3 separate regions of the Homo sapiens genome follow, and regions 1 and 3 are each linked to region 2. Evidence: fine-mapped expression QTL. A gene starts in region 2. Each other region holds a variant in brackets. All regions are shown on one strand. Distances are between the middles of the regions.

Region 1 (5,790 bases), 27 kb after region 2:
CAAGTGAACAAATGGACAGGGAGGACCCTGGGAGCCTCAGGGCAAGGGGCGTGGAGTGGTCAATGGCAGGGTCACACAGTGGGCAGGTTCTGGATGCCATTACCTATGCCTGACTTTCCTGGACCCCTACAAGAACACTGGGCCGGAAGGCAGAAGACAGTGTTTGATTTGAACTTCACACAATTTTATTTATTGAGCAACTATTAAGTGCAGGAGGCAGGGAGAGAAGACACAGTGGTTGCCCCAGCTTGGTGGGGGAGATAATAAGTAAACAGGCAAGGCCTATGGGGGGAGGAGTAAGCATCACCAACCCGTGCACCCCGCCAGTGGGGCCAGGGAAGGCAGCTTAAGGAATGAGGGGACCTCAGCTGGGTGAGGCTGGAGGTGTCAACAGCAAATGAGCGAGAACAAGGCAGGCCCACGGACCAGCATGTGGTTTGTATGGGTGGCATCTGTCATAGATGGGTGCCTGAGGGGATGTCTTAGCCAGTTTGGGCTGCGGAACAATACCATAGACTCAGCGGCTTATAAAAAATAGGACTTTATTTCTCACAGTTCTGGAGGCTGGGAAGTGCAAGATCAAGGTGCTGGCAGGTGGTGTCTGGTGTGGAACTACTTCCTGGCCTCCAGATGGCCATCTTCTCCTCATAGCCTTACAGGATGGAGACAGAGCAAGCTCTCCTGTCCCTTTATATGAGGACAAGAATCCCATCATGAAGGGTCTGCCCTCCTGACTAGTCACCTCTCAGAGGTCACATTTCCTAAGACCATCACAATGGGGCTTAGGATTTCATCATTTGGCTTTGGGGTGGGGGAGTGGTACACAAACATTCAGTCCATAAAAGGGGGACTACTAGGGTGAGGCAGGGCCGTGGGCAGAGCGCAGGCCTGGGGCATGTGGGCTGGGTAAGGCAGACTTTGGAGGTTTCCACCATGGGAGTGACAAGGGCTGGAACGTGGGAAGAATAGGGTGGAGGATGGCTTGGCTGGGACACGCCCAGGGGCAGGGAGATCAGGCAGCAGACTCTGCAGGGACGTGATGGTGGCCTGAGTCCTGGTCCAGATGCTGCTATCCAGAGAACACTGCAGCCAGAAGGGACCTTGACAGTCACTCGATTCATGCTTCCATCTCACAGGTGGAGAAACCAAGGCCCCATGAGGCCTGGGACCTGGCATTTTCAGGAAGGCCACCCCCAGGAAGGCTTCTTCCCCAGCCACTTAGCTGGCCCTCTCCCCAACCTTTTTCTGCCTGCTCAGTGAGACAAATCAATGACACATGTCTCTTCCTCTTGTTCTGGGCCACGCTGCCTCTACGGCAGGGTGATGTTGTGGGGCCTTGAGCTTGGGGCTCCCCAGAGGGCAAGAGCCTGAGACAGCAGGTCAATAAAAGGTGAGTGGTCGACGGGATTGGCAGATCCTGGACTCAGCCCTTCACTGGGCAAATGTCAGGCCCAGTGGCTGGGCAGCTTGGGGGCATTTCCACCTGAATGCAGGGACAAGACCACCGGCCAGTGGCATCAGACTGGCAAGGTGAGGAGGTGGCCTTTTGTAATGGAGTCACCTGTGTCCAGAACAGCTGTCCTCCCCTTGGGCCATGGGAGGACAAAGGAGAGAGCCAGAGGAAACCAGAGCCGAATGCCACATTGACTTCAGAGTGCTCTCCTGGTGGCTGGTGGGGCTGGGTGGGGTAGTGTGAGAGTGAAGCCAGCGGCCTGCAAGGTTTGTCCTCTGCCTAGTTCACTTGGCCTGGAGCCTGAACTGGGAGGGAGGATTCCGGTCTGGCTGTAAGACTTACTGGCTGTGAGCCCTTGGAGAAAAGGGATTCATCGTCTGGACCTCAAGTTTCTCATCTGTGAAATGGAATCGTCTCCATGGCTGAGCTGCCTTACATTGCCCCTGGGTCATGTTTACGTTCTTACGGATCCAGCCTCCCTGCCAGGGGTTCCCTGGTCTCTGCTCGGCTACTCCCTGGGCTGGGGCTGATGGCCTCTCAGGCAGACACTCTGATCATCATCATAGCCTGCCGGTGAGTAGTCTGAGCTAGGCTGTCAGTAGAGAAGGGTGGGATCCACTTTCTTCCACTCTGATCTCTTCTCCACAGCCCTCAGTTATTCCTGGAATTAGACAAAGCCCTGAAAAAATGCGAAGTAGGGGACGTGGAAGTATGATAGCTGCAACTAGCACCTCCTGGCTCACCCCTCCCACCTTCCCAAGATACACCGAAGTTATCAATAATGCTGAAGGCTAGAAATAAGCCAGAAGCAAGGGGAGATGTTTAACTAATTGAAGCCCAAAGAAAGGAGTGAAACAGAACAACACCGAAGCCACTGTTTGCCCTGCCTTCCGTCTGGGGAAAGGAGGAAAGCCGTGTTCCTACTGTGTGAGGGCTGCATTCTCCTTGGCCTCCCTCATCCATATCTCTTACCATGTGGTGACAGCTGTCCTTTGAGATTTAACTCAAGTTGCTGTGAGCACGCTATCCTGCCTCCCTGAGGGGGTTCAGTGACCTCCATGGGCATGTATGTGTTCCAGGGAGCTCATGTTCTCATGGCCCCCTCCAGTCAGAGTCCCAGCTTCTTCTTTTTTTTTTTTTATTTTTTTTTGAGACAGGGTCTTGCTCTTGTTCCCAGGCTGAAGTGCAGTGGCATAATCATAGATCACTGCAGCCTCCACTTCCCAGGATCAAGCAATTCTCCCACCTCAGCCTCCCAAGTAGCTGGGACCAACTGTGCCCAGGTTTTTTTTTTTTTTTTTTTGGTAGATAAGGGGTCTCTCTATGTTGCCCAGGCTGGTCTCGAACTCCTGGACTCTGATTTCTTCTGTGGGCCCAGCTGTGTGCCAGCTCTGATCAGGAAATATGGGAAGAGGAGACCCAGGCCCATCCATGAAGATGAGATGGGGGGAGGAAGAGAAGCAGAGGAAAAATCCAGCCTCATTCTTGGGAGGCTGACTTACCCACAGTCAGGGAA[C/G]AGCCTAGGCTGGGTGTGAGCTGGAGGCTGCGAGATTGTGCAAGAGGGATGGGAGGTCACAGGGGCTGGAACCTGTGGCAAAGGATCCCAGGGGAATCAAAGGATGGAAACGATTGGGTGGTAGAAAAAAGGGAAAGAAACTCATTCCCATTGCTTCACGCTCTGGGAAGGCCATCACAATGCTATTCTTAGAAGGAAGCATATTTAATGGGAAAGTTAAATCCCACACCCATCTAAACCCTTGACTTCTGCATTTCCAAATACAGGGCTTGGTGAGTTACCTGAAACTGTATTAATAACAGCTAATGCATACATAGCCTTGGTCCCTGGTAGGCATAATTCTAATCCTTTCAGATATACCCTATAAATGTATATAATCCCTATATAAAACCATATTGTTACCTGTGTTTTAGGGATGAAGAAACTGAAGCACAGAGAGCTGAGGTCATGGGCCCAAGGTCACAGCTCTAATAATAAGCAGTGGATCTAGGAGTTGACCCAGCAGTCTGGGTCAGGAGTCCATGCTCTTAACTACTGTGCTATGGTGCCCTTCTGTGGGAAGGGCCACGCAGCGCCTGCAGGTCCTTAGAAATACCTCTCTTGTTTTCCCAGGGCTTGCTATGAGAGTATCACTCACCCATCCCCCGCCCCTGGTCCTCCTGCTGAATTTCAGAGCCCATCTAGCCATCAACTACCCGCGCCTCCACTGCTCTTACCGGGAGGCTGTTTGTGAAGGCAGAATTGGAATTTCTGAGTAAAATTTTCTTTCTCTTTATTTCAGAAATATAGTTCTCTCAAACTGAGCACCAGAGCTATTGATTCAGCAATAATAGAAAGTATTTGTGTGGAGAACCATGCCTCCTTGCACAATCTGCTAATGTTCTCGTTGGCAGGTATATAGAATATTGACAAAGGAAATTCAAGTTGTCCTGAATTTCCCCCAGCTTCTCAGGAAGAAGGGGAAATTAGTTTTGAACATGGCATAAATACCATCACAGTTGTCCCCAAATATTGATTCTTTGCAGTGTCTTTTATTATATGCACATAATAGGAGCTCAATAGGAATTGACTAAAGCCAGATTGCCTGGTGAGAATTCTGTCTGCTGTGCTCTAGCTGTGTGACCTTGGGTGAGTGACTTCCGTTCTCTGGCTCACAATTCCCTTTGTAAAGTGGAGCTGACAATAGTACCTTTCATGGTACCTACCTCTTTGGATCATGGGGAACTACATGTATGAATCTAGGCCCAGTGGTTAAATCAGCGCCTGGCCCATCGTACACCCTCAGTCAAAGACTAGCTGCTACTGTGACAGGCTTCAAGTGGAAGAGTGAAAGCAAAATATGGCTTGGATGGAAGAGGTCACCCTGGCCACCCTGCTCCTGATGATTGGCACCAGAAGTGACTTTGATCTTTTACAGATATTTGCACTGTTGATGAAAATCTAGCAAGAGTTGGCAAATTAATACTGTATACAAAAATAGAGAATTTTGCAAGTAACTTTAGAGAACATCTAGCTTAATTCCCCTCATTTTAGATGTGCAAAGTGAGGCCCAGAGAGGGGAAGGGCTTGCTCAGGCTTCTACAGTTGGTCCCTGTCAGAGCTGGGACTTAAGTCCCTCTAGGGAAGAGGCTACGCTGCTTCTCCAGGTTCATTTCTTTATCCATGGCTGTGACCAAATAAAAGATTCAAAGGTCAGAGAATCAACATACTGCCTTTGGGAAAAGAAATCACAGCTCAAGTTGGCACGTTTGGCGCTGAGTCACCAGCATACACTGCTAGGGAGGGACAGCAGCCATCAGTTTAATAACCTCTAAGCCATGTGACTAGTTAACCAGGGAATTCTTTTTTTTTTTTAATTATTATTTTTTGAGATGGAATTTCATTCTCATTGCCCAGGCTGGAGTGCAATGGCGCAATCTTGGCTCACTGCAACCTCTGCCTCCCAGGTTCAAATGATTTTCCTGCCTCAACCTCCTGAGTGGGACTACAGGCATGCGCCACCATGCCTGGCTAATTTTGTATTTTTAGTAGAGACAGGGTTTCTCCATGTTAGTCAGGCTGGTCTCGAACTCCCGACCTCTGGTGATGCGTCCACCTCGGCCTCCCAAAGTGCTGGGATTACAGGCGTGAGCCACCACACCCAGCCAACCAGGGGATTCTTTCTGAGAAGTTCTCACCATGATTTTCTTCCTGGTCATTGATGACTGATCCCATGGGTAATATGTGTTTCTAATCATTAGAACCATGGTGATGACATTGCAGGAACCAGAGATGCTTTTCTACCCAGTTCTCAGGGAGGATGCATGACACCCTGAGAAATATGATTTGTATCTTAGCTAGTTAGTGGTAGATTTAAAACCAGAACCCAGAACTGCTAACTTCCCAACTAGGAATCTAACTACAACAAAAGAGTACCTCTCTAAGCAAGCCTTCTGCCAGTGATTTTCTGCATTGCAGTGTTTTTACTTTTTATTTTTTGAGACAGAATCTTGCTCGTCACTCAGGCTGGAGTGCAGTGATGCGATCTTGGCTCACTGCAACCTCCGCCTCACAGGTTCAAGTGATTCTCATGCTTCAGGCACCCAAATATCTGGGACTAGAGGCATGAACCACCATGCCTGACTAATTTTTATATTTTTAGTGGAGATGGGGTTTTACCATGTTGGCCAGGCTGGTCTTGAACTCCTGGCCTCAAGTGATCCACCTACCTCGGCCTCCCAAAGTGTTGGGATTACAGGTTTGAGCTACTGTACCTGGCCAGTGTTTTGTAAAATATTTCAGAAAATCCCCCAACTCTGGCCCTTATAAAGACAAACCCCAT
Region 2 (5,790 bases):
GATACAAAGCTCTCTCAGTGGTAGCTGGCACCTGGAAAATGATCAACACTTAGCTTTGTGGCAGATTCTCTGTGCTCAGCTGAGTTGAAAAATCGCAGAGACTAATATCTAAACTGCTATCCCCACCCGGGCGATTCCTGCTCTCTAAGGAATGAGGCTTCAATGCGGGTTTGGCTATAGCATAACAAAATTGGGGCAGGAAGTGGAGCCTGAACGCTCCTGTTCTTCCCCTAGGCTTCTCGTGGAGGTTTCTCCCTCTGTCATTCTTTTTAAAGGAAGGATCCCAAGGAAAAGGCAAACAGAGAAGCAGGAAGCAGCACTGATGTGAAGAAAGGGGAGGAGGGAAATCAATCATGCATTTCCACAGCCATTAGCAGCCTCTGCTCTTCCCACCTAGGCTGACCTCACACCCCAGGTGCTGGTTAGTGGTAAGTGCTCCCCACCCTCCACAAGCTCCTCTCATTCTCCAGCAGTTGCAGTGCAGGCAGCACTTTGGTCTAAATGAAGAAAATTGTTCATTAGATACCAGGGGCTAATTGGCCCTACTTTTACCAGCCTGGGTGGTGCCCCAACCTTTTATCAGCTTCTCATTAGACTTAATTGATATGAATGGCCTGATATGTGCTGTCTGCAGCACCTTTGGGAAGTCTTCCTTGTCACCCCGCCCCCACACCCCAATCCCATAGACCTTGTGCTTCCCCCCTAATTAGGGCATTCATCATTCTGTTCTTTTTGTCTGTTGCAATTGTGAGTGAGAGCCTCAATACAGTGCCTGTGCAGTGGCTGGCACATAGTGGGTATTCCACAAATTGACTGAGTATTACTGTACTCAGCTTGGCTATGAAGAAGAGACCCAGGCCCTGGGAAGGGGGGGCCCCCAGGCTGGTCGGGGAGAACAAGGCATAGCCCAGGCTGGGGTAAGAACGAAAGCAGAGCTCCCTGAGGTTCACAGGCTGTGGGCTGAGATGCTCCATCACCCCACTTTACCCTGGATGGCCCTTAATCTCCGGGCCCAGTCTGAATCAGGCATGCTGATCTCCATTGCCCCACCCCACACAGCTCACGGAATCCTAAAAATACAGTTTTATAAGGTCAGGACTAGGAAGGCACAGGGAAATCATTCCTTCTGCTTGCACACCTCCTAGCTTGGGGATCTTACTTCCTTCTAGGGAGATCTGTTTTAATCATGGATGGGAAGCATGTGCTCCCTGGGCCCACCAGAGCCCTCAGCTGGTGCAGCCAGGAGAGTGCGGCTTGGCATCAGGTGCAGGTACATCTCTCTTGCCTTCTAACCATCTCTCATGGCAAAGCCCTCAGCCTCAGCTTCTGAAAGCTTGTGTGTGTGTGTGTGTGTGTGTGTGTGTGTGTGTGTATGTGTGGTGGAGGTGGAGCTGGGCTACCAATCAGACACAGACACTCTGAGGATGTTTCCAGGATGAGAGGCTTCAGACAAACAATCCAGATAGGGTCTCAGCGTGCTTGACAACTGGGGTCCGGCTGGAGATATCAGGGGGGTTCTAGGTGGGGCAGTGATTGCTGCCCCCACAGCCTCCCGCAGACCACACACCTGGCTCCCATCCCATGTTCCACAGGGCACAGACAGGCACCTACCCACACGCACACACCCAGAACCCACACTGAACGACCCCACCTGGAGGCTGTGTAACTCCAGCAACCTCTACTGCCCTTTTCCCCAGAGCCTCAAGCCAGTCCATGATTTGCCAGGAGGAAGGCAGGCACAGGTTGTTCTCCTTGAGAGATGGTGTTGGGGTGCTGATTCAGACACCACTCATTATGGGGGCGCAGGAATAATGCTGCCCACAGCCCCTGACTCAGCCCAGCAGGTCAGTCCTGGGACCTCGGATTAGGGAAGATGCAACACCCCGCACCCTCTGGCTTAGCAGAACCTACGCCTGCATGTCCTCCCCACGAAACATGCGCTCGCCCCAGCCCTCCTGCCTCCTACCCTCCTCCTCCCCTCTGGTAGTAGGGTCTGGTCACTGCACTCACTCTGGGGGATTTGGGACTTAGCATATCCGCCCTCCTGGGATAGGTCCCCCTCCTGGGCAGGGGAAGCATTGTCTAAACAATGAAGCCCTAATGGGGAACTTCAGGCAACGGGAACCTACAATGAGGGAAGGAGGTTTACACTCCAAGAGGAGGAAGTATTTCCTTCTCCCCTTTTTGGGCTGTCACCGCATGGAGCACGGGAATTGTGGGCAAATCACTGGCTTACTGAGATTAGACGCTGTATTGGGGGTAGAAGCAGAAGGCGCGCCCCCAACACTGTAAGGGGTCCTTAACGCCCGCGGTCCGCGGTACCGCGGCCGTCAGCAGCTTTGTACCGCTGGGTCCGGAATCCTCTTTACTCCCTAAACCGCCTTCTCAGGAGGCCGGTGTAGAGCAGGCAGCGAGGGCCGGGGGCACTCACGGGTCGTGTTGTACTTGACGCCGTTGAAGTACTCGGGGCACGGCCTCTCCACGAGGGCTCCGGCAGCGCTGCGGGGCCAGCACGTTCCGATCTGGTCCAAGGTCGTGTTGCAGTAGGAGTAGGGACCTGGCGGCGGGAGAGAGCGCAGTAGGGCTCAGAGGGGCCCGCAGGGACGCGGGGCTCTCGGAGCGCGGGGTCAGGGGCGCACCCAGCGCGCGAGAGAAGGAGCCCGCGCAGCCTCCGACCGCTCGCCTCCCGCCTACCCTCGGGGTCCAGGGGTGGCCCCCAGCCGTCCAAGAGCAGCTCTTCAGCCAGCGCCAGGCTGCAGTTGGCCTCCAGCAGGCTGTGGAGCAGTGCCGCGTCCATCGCGTCCCGCAGCCGCGTGCGGAGAGGGAGTGGGAGTGCGCGCCCGGCGTGACTGCGAGGGAGTGGACGCGAGAGTGAGCGGCCGAGAGGGCGCGGGGTCCTGGCCCCCGCCAGCCCAGCCCCGATCTCCCGGGCAGCCTTTGGGCGCCACCTCCGGTCGCCCAGAGCTGTCAAGTGGGGACCTTCCCGGAGAGGAGCCGCCGAGTGCACGGAGCTGCGGGTACAGCCGCTCCGCCGCGGCCAATGGCTGCGCCGGGGGGCGGGGCCGGGCGGCTCCTCTCGGAGGGGCTCAGTCTCCAGCCCCCGGGCCCTCCACCCTGCCCAAAGTACGGCTTCTCAGTTCGCAGCTCTCTTCCACTCGCGGCGTCCAGAGGAGGGCGGTGGGCTGGAGAGCGTGGGCCTGGGGTGACGGAATGCTCTGTGCGGGGATCGCAGGCCCCCGAGCTGCAGGGGGCAGCAAAGCGCGCCCACCTGCCCGCCTGCCCGAGGAGAACACCGCAGCTCTGCTAATCGAGGGACAGCCGCAACCCAAAGTTCGGCAGCTTTCCGCCTGAGCTTCCCCTCCCTGAGCGAGGACACTGGAGGGAGGCAGAGACGGAGAGCCCATGGGCAGATCTGCATCCTCCAAAAGCCTCCATAGCCTCTGGGAAGGAAATGTATCGAGGAGGCCTGGAGGGAAGCAGGGAGACACCCATGAGTCTAATGAGATCAAGTGGCCTGAGTGGGTTGAAGTCCTTGGATCAGACCGTGGAAGCTGGAATGGAGAGAGATTTCGGAGGGGCAGCCAGACCTGGTGAGGAGGAACTGGAGTGGGTGGCTGGTTTTAAGTAGGAGCCCAGAGGCAGGGATAACATCAGGTCTCCTGCTTGAGTGACTGGGTGGCCATTTAATCAGATGGAGTAAGTCTAGGGGAGAAATTGGCTGAAATTATCTGGAAGGCTTTATACACCCAGTTGTTAGTGCCTTGGGCACCAGAAAGAATAAAGGAAGAAGTGAGAATGTGTCTCTCTTCCTCAAGGCTTGGGCAGGGCTTCACCTGACCCTGGTTTCCACACCAGTAGCGGGGCAGGGGCGGGGAGAATCAGGCCCCACAGCAGGTGTGGAGGAGCTGGAAACCTCCCCAGAGAACTTGCCCAGGCCCCCCACCCCACCCTGGCCCAGAATGCCTCCTTGGTGATCTGCTGTGGCTGCACCCTCAGAGTGCCCAGGGCGGGCCTGCTGTGTCTGCCAGCTGAGTGGGGCATTGGGCTCGGGAAGCAGGGCCTGGGGTAAGGCATGCTTCCACTCAGGCTGCATTTTGGTCCAGCCTCTGACTCTGCTCTCCCTGCCATGGTACCCCAGGCAGGATGCTTGCCCTCTCTTCTGGAGCTTTCTCCATCAGTGAAATCTTCCCCGAGGCCCCTCTCAGCTCTGAGACTCTCTGGTTCTGAGTTATGAGACGGAGAGTCTGGGGAAGACATACATGTGTGTTGTGTGTTGTTTGTTTCTATCTTTAGAGGGCAAGGAGAGCTGGAACCTAGTCTCAGAAACCAGTCCTGTTCCCCTGCCATCCTCCACATAAACCTAAGCTGCTAGGAAAGGCTGAAACCACCATGAACTAGCACCATGCCCTGGGCAGAGAGAGGCAAAGCAGCAGGCAGGCTGCTTTTGTGTGCTCCGCTCTCACCAGCCTCCATATTAATGGTGCTGTCACTGCCCAGGCAGAGCGAGTGAGACCACACTAAGACCAGGGCTGAGCCCTGGAATCTCTCCAGGGCCTGCTGACTGGCAGGAACAAGATGCTGAGCAGCCAGCCAGGTCTACCCTCTGCCTCCTGAATGGACAGTGAGAGCCCAGGCTCAGCTCTGGGCAGCTGCAGAGGTAGAGGTTCCTTGGTCTTCATATTATCCAGTGCCAGGAGCAGGGGAGGACCTAGGCAGAGTCCTACCCTCCGCTCCTAGACTGAGCCCTGTTACCCAGGGTCCCACACAGGCCAGAGGGTGGCTGGCCAGGTCAGCCCATGTATTCACAGGGCAATAGTGTCCCTCATATACAAGGGATAGCCCTTCACACAGCACGGTGCAGCACAGAGGAAGGGAGAAATCCTAAGCCAAGCTTAAGTTATTATCCTTGTTCATTACTGCAGCCACCACCTAGGTGGTGCCTAAAGCACCTATAGATGCAGCTATGTCAAGAGGTGGTGTGCTCCCAATGACCAGAGGCCAGGGACTTCTCATCTCATGCAGATTTCTGCAGAACAGAGGGTTGGCCTGGGTGAACTGGATTGCTCTTAACTGGGAGAGCTCACATACCAAAGATTCTTCTGGGAAGTGACCATTTCAGTGGCAGAGTCAAAGGCTGTTCTGCATCCTGAATGAGCAGTTGGGGTCTGAGCACATACCCACAGACCCACAGACCCGAGGTCCCCTGGATGTGGGGCCATTTCTTCATGGATCTTATTATTATAGGCACAGTTGTCATTCGAGATGTGACAGAGGGAAAACTAGAAAAGGTAGCAGTTTGGGAACAAATTGATTTTACAGCTCACTTTAGTGTCTGCAAACAGGCAAATGAGGAAGAAATTGGGAAGAGCCCCAAAATTCCCTCAATTTTACTAAATCCAAGTACAAACAAACAAAGACAGGGGCATTTTTGCTAACTAAAGAAGCAGAGGTAGATTAGAGGCTTTGGGATAGTGATGGGTTCCCAGCGCTGCAGGCCAGCCCCATCCCAGCTGGAGGCCAGGAATTAGGGGATAAGTATTTGGAACAGTTTGTGTGTCCCCAAGCTGTTGGGGACAGGTTGGCAAATAGGTTCAGGGAAGTGTGACAGGTACTTTGGAAGACCCCTGTGTACCATGAGCAGCAGAGTAAGGCAGGTGCCTCTGGTGCCCTGCATCCCATCCCATGGCCCACCTCTGATGTCAGCTGCAGCAGCAGTGGACAGTTCCAGGCCAGCTCAGACACACTTGCAAAGCCTAATACATGGCATCAAACAGGCATGTAGGCACAACA
Region 3 (5,790 bases), 49 kb before region 2:
TGTGAGCTAATTAAACTTTTCTGTTTCACTTGGTCACTGAGGTTCATAGGTTTTTCTCTTAAAAGACAGAATGGGCTTTGGTTTGGGTCACTGCCACTTGTTTGAATATTTAGGTAGTCTCCACAGAAAGTCTTTTATGTGGAACCAAAAAATTACCGTCTTTTATATACAGTAGCTTTCAGAATGCTTTCACATCATTTGACTTTTTTAGTAACGGGCTTGTGAAGCAAGCAGAGCAGGTGGTAGAGACCTGCTTTTTAGGTGGAGAAACTAAGGTTCAGAAAGAGTTCATGACTTGGCCTAAATTCGGAGCTGAAACCAGGTGTTTCTGATGCTGGTTCTGCTTCTCTTTTGCCATACTGCTTTTCATGTCATGTTTTCTGGCATTTTGGTAATGACGTTATGCTTGAACACTTGCTGAATATTAACCTCTTTTGGTTTGGGATATTAGCATTTAGATATTTACAAATTAACATATTTGGATTTTTTTCTTTTTAAATCATCCAGTTCTTCAGTTTCCCTGCTGTAGTTGCTCCATTCAAATGTTCCGTCCTCCCACTGAGCCAAAACCAGGAGTTCATGCCATTTGTCAAGGAATTATGTAAGCAAATTCAATTGGGTAAACTCCATGGGAACACCATCAAGGAGACTGAATTTTAGGAAATGTATCATTTATTTCAATAAAAATATAGACTGAATAAAGAATATAAATGATTTTATAAAGAGTACATGATTTTAGCCTGTACTCTTATTTCTAAGCGAGAGGATATGCTTGCTCAGATGTTTTATTCTGGCATTTGAGTGAGGCAAGGTAGGACCCAAGAGTCAGATTTAAAAATTATTTACTTCTCATACTGACCTTGGTGCCAAGTTCATCGAGGGAACCTGAGTGGAGTGTAGCAACCATAATGGATCTACAGCCACAGAATCCACAGCCCTGAAAGGAATCCTGGTGGTCATCTGGCACATCCACTTATTTCAGAGCTGGGAAATGGGGAGAGTCCATTGACCTGCTTAGAGCCATAAAAATAGAGGTGGTGGAGTCAGGACTCACCTTCTGGCCTTGGCTCTTGGTCCCATATTTGTTCCCCCTATAGCTGTATCAGATGGAGGTATGAGTGAAGATTTGGATTCCCGCAAGGGATTTATTAAACTTTAGGGATATTTCTTTCTCTTGCAACTCAACTTGTTGCTTTCTTGTCTTGGTCCCATTTATAAGTCTCCTGAGCTTGTAAGACAGTAGTTAGATAACACTGGGCTTAACTCCATTGTTTTATTTTTAATTTACTTTGTTTATTTTGGATAGCGGAAGCCCTGACCAGGCATGGAGTATCTCACAAAGTAGACGATTCCTCTGGGTCAATCGGAAGGCGCTATGCCAGGACTGATGAGATTGGCGTGGCTTTTGGTGTCACCATTGACTTTGACACAGTGAACAAGACCCCCCACACTGCAACTCTGAGGGACCGTGACTCAATGCGGCAGATAAGAGCAGAGGTATCTGGCCTTCTCTTTGGCATTTTTAGCCTTAGAAATGTGTACTGCTTCTTACTGATTTGTGTTGGATTTTGATGTGTTTATGCTCCCTTTCCTTTTTTTTTCTTTTTAATTTTAATGAACGGCTTGTATCAGACAGAGCCCAGATTCTCAAGTCCCCCGGTTTAATTATGAAAATATCCATTAGCACTTCTCTAATATTTTATAAACATTTGTGTTGCTCCAGGCTTATTCTCCAGCAGTTTGCTTTTATACTTGTTTGTTTATTGGGCAAGAGAAATATGATCCTAAGAATTTGTTGCCATAGTTTTATTGGTAGGCTTTGGAGGGTTAGACATTTTAATGTTTTATTTTTACAGACGCGTATACATGTGTATGTATAAGCTTTTCCGTGTTCATATATTCAAAACAGTGAATCATGTTTCAGTAGTTTTGGTCAATAGGAAGGCAGTAATGGAGATGGTAGAAGCACAGAAGGAGAAGGATGAGTGGTAAGGGAAAGGAAAGAGTAGCTGCTTTAATTGACATCTGCCTGCCTAATTTATCACCTTTGAGCACATACATCAAGTGCCTGTTCTGTGCTTAGCTTGATACAGAAGTAATAGGGAAAACAGAAGCAAAAGACTGCTTTTTTTTCTGAAGGAGTTTATAGTCTAATCCAGAAGTCGTGAATTTCTAGCTTGACTTTTTAGAGACCATCTGGCTACTCTGGAGCTGTGTCCCCATCTGGGTGTGGTTCTCAAAAGTGTGGTCCCTAGACCAGCAGCATCAGTATCCCCTGGAAATGTATGAGATAAGCAAAACCTCCACCCCAGACCTACTGCATCATAAACTGGGGGTGGAGAGGCAGAGGGGGCAGGCAGAACTTTCTTAGTTTTAGCAAGACCTCCAGATGATTCTGACGTGCACTCAAGTTTGAGAACCATTGCTGTGTGGCAGCCAGTGTTTGGTTTTGGCTGAGGAACAGTAGCCTTGGTCAGAGCTCTCCAGTTTGCCAGTCTTATGTAATTCCCTCACACGAGTTACTTGACTGAGTCCTGTTTGTTCTAATAGTTAAATTTAATACACATGAAGTAACTTCAAGGGACATGGAGATTTAGAAAAGTTAGGAAAGGCTTTGTGGCAGAATTGAGTTGTCTGGGGGAACTGGTGGGCGTTTTGGGCTAGAAGAGCATGAACCCATGCCTGGCATGACATTGTTTGGCTCTGTGTAAGGTTTCCTGAGTTCAGGATGAATCTTCTTCTTAAAAATCTGAACAAGTTGGTTGATACTTGGCTTCTCTTTCCTTGT[C/T]TCTAGATCTCTGAGCTGCCCAGCATAGTCCAAGACCTAGCCAATGGCAACATCACATGGGCTGATGTGGAGGCCAGGTATCCTCTGTTTGAAGGGCAAGAGACTGGTAAAAAAGAGACAATCGAGGAATGAGGACAATTTTGACAACTTTTGACCACTTGCGCTAATAAAAAAAAAAAAAAACTACTCTTATGTCCACTTTACAAAAGAAAACAGCATTGTGATTACTCCCAGGGACCGTATTTTATCTTCAGTGGCTGCCTGATTTTACCCCCACAATTAAAGTTGAAGGAATCCTGAACAAACTTGTGATCTATTTGCTTGTGTTTTTACATTTTCAGCAAGGCTGTTTCTCCCACGTTTGGGTAGACATGCTCATGGCTTAATGTTAAACACAGTTAACACTTTTTAAAAAATTAACAGCTTTATTGGGGTATAATTTACATACCATAAAAATAGCCTGTCTTAAGTGTACAGTTCAATGATGTTTAGTATATTTACAGAGTTGTGCAACCACCACCACAAACCAATTTTAGAACATTTTCATCACTCCAAAATAAGTCTCATGCTCATTTACCTCACTCCCATTCTAACCTCAGCCCAGGCAACCACTCCTCTACTTTCTGTCTATTGATTTACCTTTTCTATTCTTTATCTTATTCTGAGAAAATGACGCAGTGTGCAGGTACTGTGACAGCAGTCTCCAAGCAGGTGAAATGACTTCTGGAAAAGCCTGAGGTGAGGATGGGGTGGCAGGAGTGGTGCTTTAGGGCTGCTAACCCCACTGTTTGCAGATTCTCCAGGAGGGGAGGGCCTTGCCATATTTGCCTTCTATCTTAAGGCATGCTTGCACTCAGCTCCACTGGTAGCCTGGAAATCATTAAGCTCTTGATGCTAGGGGAACCCATCTCTCTCGTCTGATTTAGCAATTCCTGACCATCGCAGTGTCTTGATTCTAGCCTAGCAGTTTTTGGCTCAGGTTTTAAGGTACTTTACTTCTTTTATGTTTTTGTATAGAAAACTCAGAACGCTGTGCTTATTTGTAAGGGAAAAATTCCAGGTTGTGTGAATTTGAGCAGCTGTTTATTTGCAGAGCTATGACCTTATCTAGTGTGCCCACTTCCTCCCCTGCAGTATTGGATAGAGGAGTGGTGATCTCCAGTGTGCCCTTTTGTTTCTAGTATGAAGAACAATTGAAGTTGTGATTTCTTAGATGTAAAGTAGGAATCTCCCAGGGATTTCCCTCATTTGTATCTCATCTCCAGTGGTGCCTACCGCAGTGCTGTACATAGTAGGTCTTCCATAAATAGTCTTTGGATGAGTCTCGAATTTTTGAACAGACTTCTTTTTTGAACAAACCTCTTTGGGAGGAAAGCCTTATACTGAAGCATATTTCTCTTCCGTCTCTGCTTTTATGAGCATTCATTATTAAATTAGAAGGAGCCAGATTTTAAATAAACTGAGTTTTCATTTTCTAGGGATTTCTCTCACTTCGAATTCCATATAATATAGCTTTTAACTGGGCATATGTTCTAGCAGCTTTACATTGGCAGGGGGCTGCCCTAACTGCATTTATTTGCTGCTTTTACAGCAGGTACCTCCATAGTCAAACAGTCACCACAGCCTCAGACATTGGTTTAAGCTCATTAATAGGGAAAGATACATTAAATACATAGTGAGAGTTACCTATCATCAGGTTGGTGCCAAAGTAGTTGCGGTTTTTGCCATTAAAAGTAATGACAGGCTGGGCGCGGTGGCTCATGCCTGTAATCCCAGCACTTTGGGAGGCCAAGGCGGGCGGATCATTTGAGGTCAGGAGTTCGAGACCAGCCTGGCCAACACAGTGAAACCCCGTCTACTAAAAATACAAAAATCGGCCGGGTGTGGTGGCACGTTCCTGTACTCCCAGCTACATGGGAGGCTGAGGCAGGAGAATCACTTGAACCCGGGAGGCGGAGGTTTCAGTTAGCTGAGATTGTGCCACTGCACTCCAGTCTGGGCACAGAGCGAGACTCCATCTCAAAAAAATAAATAAATAAAGTAATGACAAAAACCATAATTACTTTTGCACCAGCCTAATACTTTGGATCAGAAAGGGATTGGAACCAAGCCTCACTTCCCTTTTCATTGGCAAATACATTTGTCATGAGGTAGAGGCTGGATATTGAATCTGCAAGCCCTCTTTTGTTCCTTCCCCTGGGTAGCAATGCGTGATTTCTCCTGGATCACCTGCTCTAAAGCAGGTCTCTAAAGTGATACCTGAGTGAGGGAGACGGGCCGGCAGCAGAGCTCTCTGGTTCTGTCTGTACCATGTTTGCTTGATTTTAAGAACAAGCAGTTGAAGTGCTGTTTTCTAAATGAAGAGACTCTTTACCCACGAGTTTGCGTATGCATACGCACACACCTCTTCTGTTCAAGCCCAATGTGTATTTAAAGCATGGGTCTTTCTGGCTTAATGCTCTTTGAGGCCTTTTAAATTATTTATATACCTGTACGTACCGGACTGTGGGCTTAACAAGAGTGAGATAAATAGCATTGTATCTTGGAGAAGTTACTCCTGTTTATTACTTCTCCCAAAAATGATGGGGGAAGGTCAGATTCTTTTTTTTTTTTTTCTTGTGCTTAGTGCCAAATTTTATTTTTCTTTGGAAGACTGACATTAAACGTGAGAAAAACAAAGGATAACAAAAATTATCTTTATTTTCAAAATAACTTTACTAAACTATACTGATTACAAATAATACAGTCTAATGAAAACAAAGCCACTTAAAAAAGTTTAAAGAAGACATGTATGTGTAATTTTCTCATATAATTAACACTTTAAATTATTTTACAGAGTGTCATTTTAGAAATGGGTTGATACTATTTTGAATTATAGAATTAAAGTATGATCAGCATCTAATACAAAAACATACAATTAGATATTTTCTATTTTTCTGCTTTTAACTATTATTTAAGAATTTAATCTTTTTAGATTAGCCATCAGGGAAAATATATAGAAT

Alleles and levels. Alleles are on the strand shown, and positions count from the first base shown. SD is a standard deviation of normalised expression in the study named. Not every link is listed here.
In carriers of allele C in region 3, the expression in fibroblasts of the gene that starts at base 2,973 in region 2 tends to be higher than with T alone (moderate effect, 0.64 SD a copy in GTEx).

The links. PIP is the estimated chance that this variant, and not a neighbour inherited with it, causes the effect.
Region 1: its variant is the best candidate, but not a certain one, in a credible set for the expression of CRHR2 in tibial nerve (GTEx, PIP 0.82).
Region 3: its variant is the best candidate, but not a certain one, in a credible set for the expression of CRHR2 in fibroblasts (GTEx, PIP 0.78).

What each region holds. Positions count from the first base shown.
Region 1 is chr7:30,706,159-30,711,948 of GRCh38, forward strand. All of the region lies in intron 1 of LOC105375220 (a long non-coding RNA gene), which reads left to right. Among named protein-coding and RNA genes, the nearest start is that of CRHR2, 27 kb to the left of the region's middle. RefSeq lists an enhancer at 1,281-1,781. The variant C/G (reference allele first, on the strand shown) is at 2,970.
Region 2 is chr7:30,679,484-30,685,273 of GRCh38, forward strand. CRHR2 (corticotropin releasing hormone receptor 2) reads right to left here and starts at 2,973. Exons shown (of 12, transcript NM_001883.5): 1 at 2,695-2,973; 2 at 2,432-2,557. The coding sequence starts at 2,797. LOC124901608 (a long non-coding RNA gene) reads left to right here and starts at 3,136. Exons shown (of 2, transcript XR_007060275.1): 1 at 3,136-3,590. RefSeq lists a silencer at 2,995-3,044.
Region 3 is chr7:30,630,941-30,636,730 of GRCh38, forward strand. It overlaps GARS1 (glycyl-tRNA synthetase 1), which reads left to right. Exons shown (of 17, transcript NM_002047.4): 15 at 508-601; 16 at 1,307-1,497; 17 at 2,795-3,093. The coding sequence ends at 2,920. Among named protein-coding and RNA genes, the nearest start is that of GARS1, 39 kb to the left of the region's middle. The variant C/T (reference allele first, on the strand shown) is at 2,789.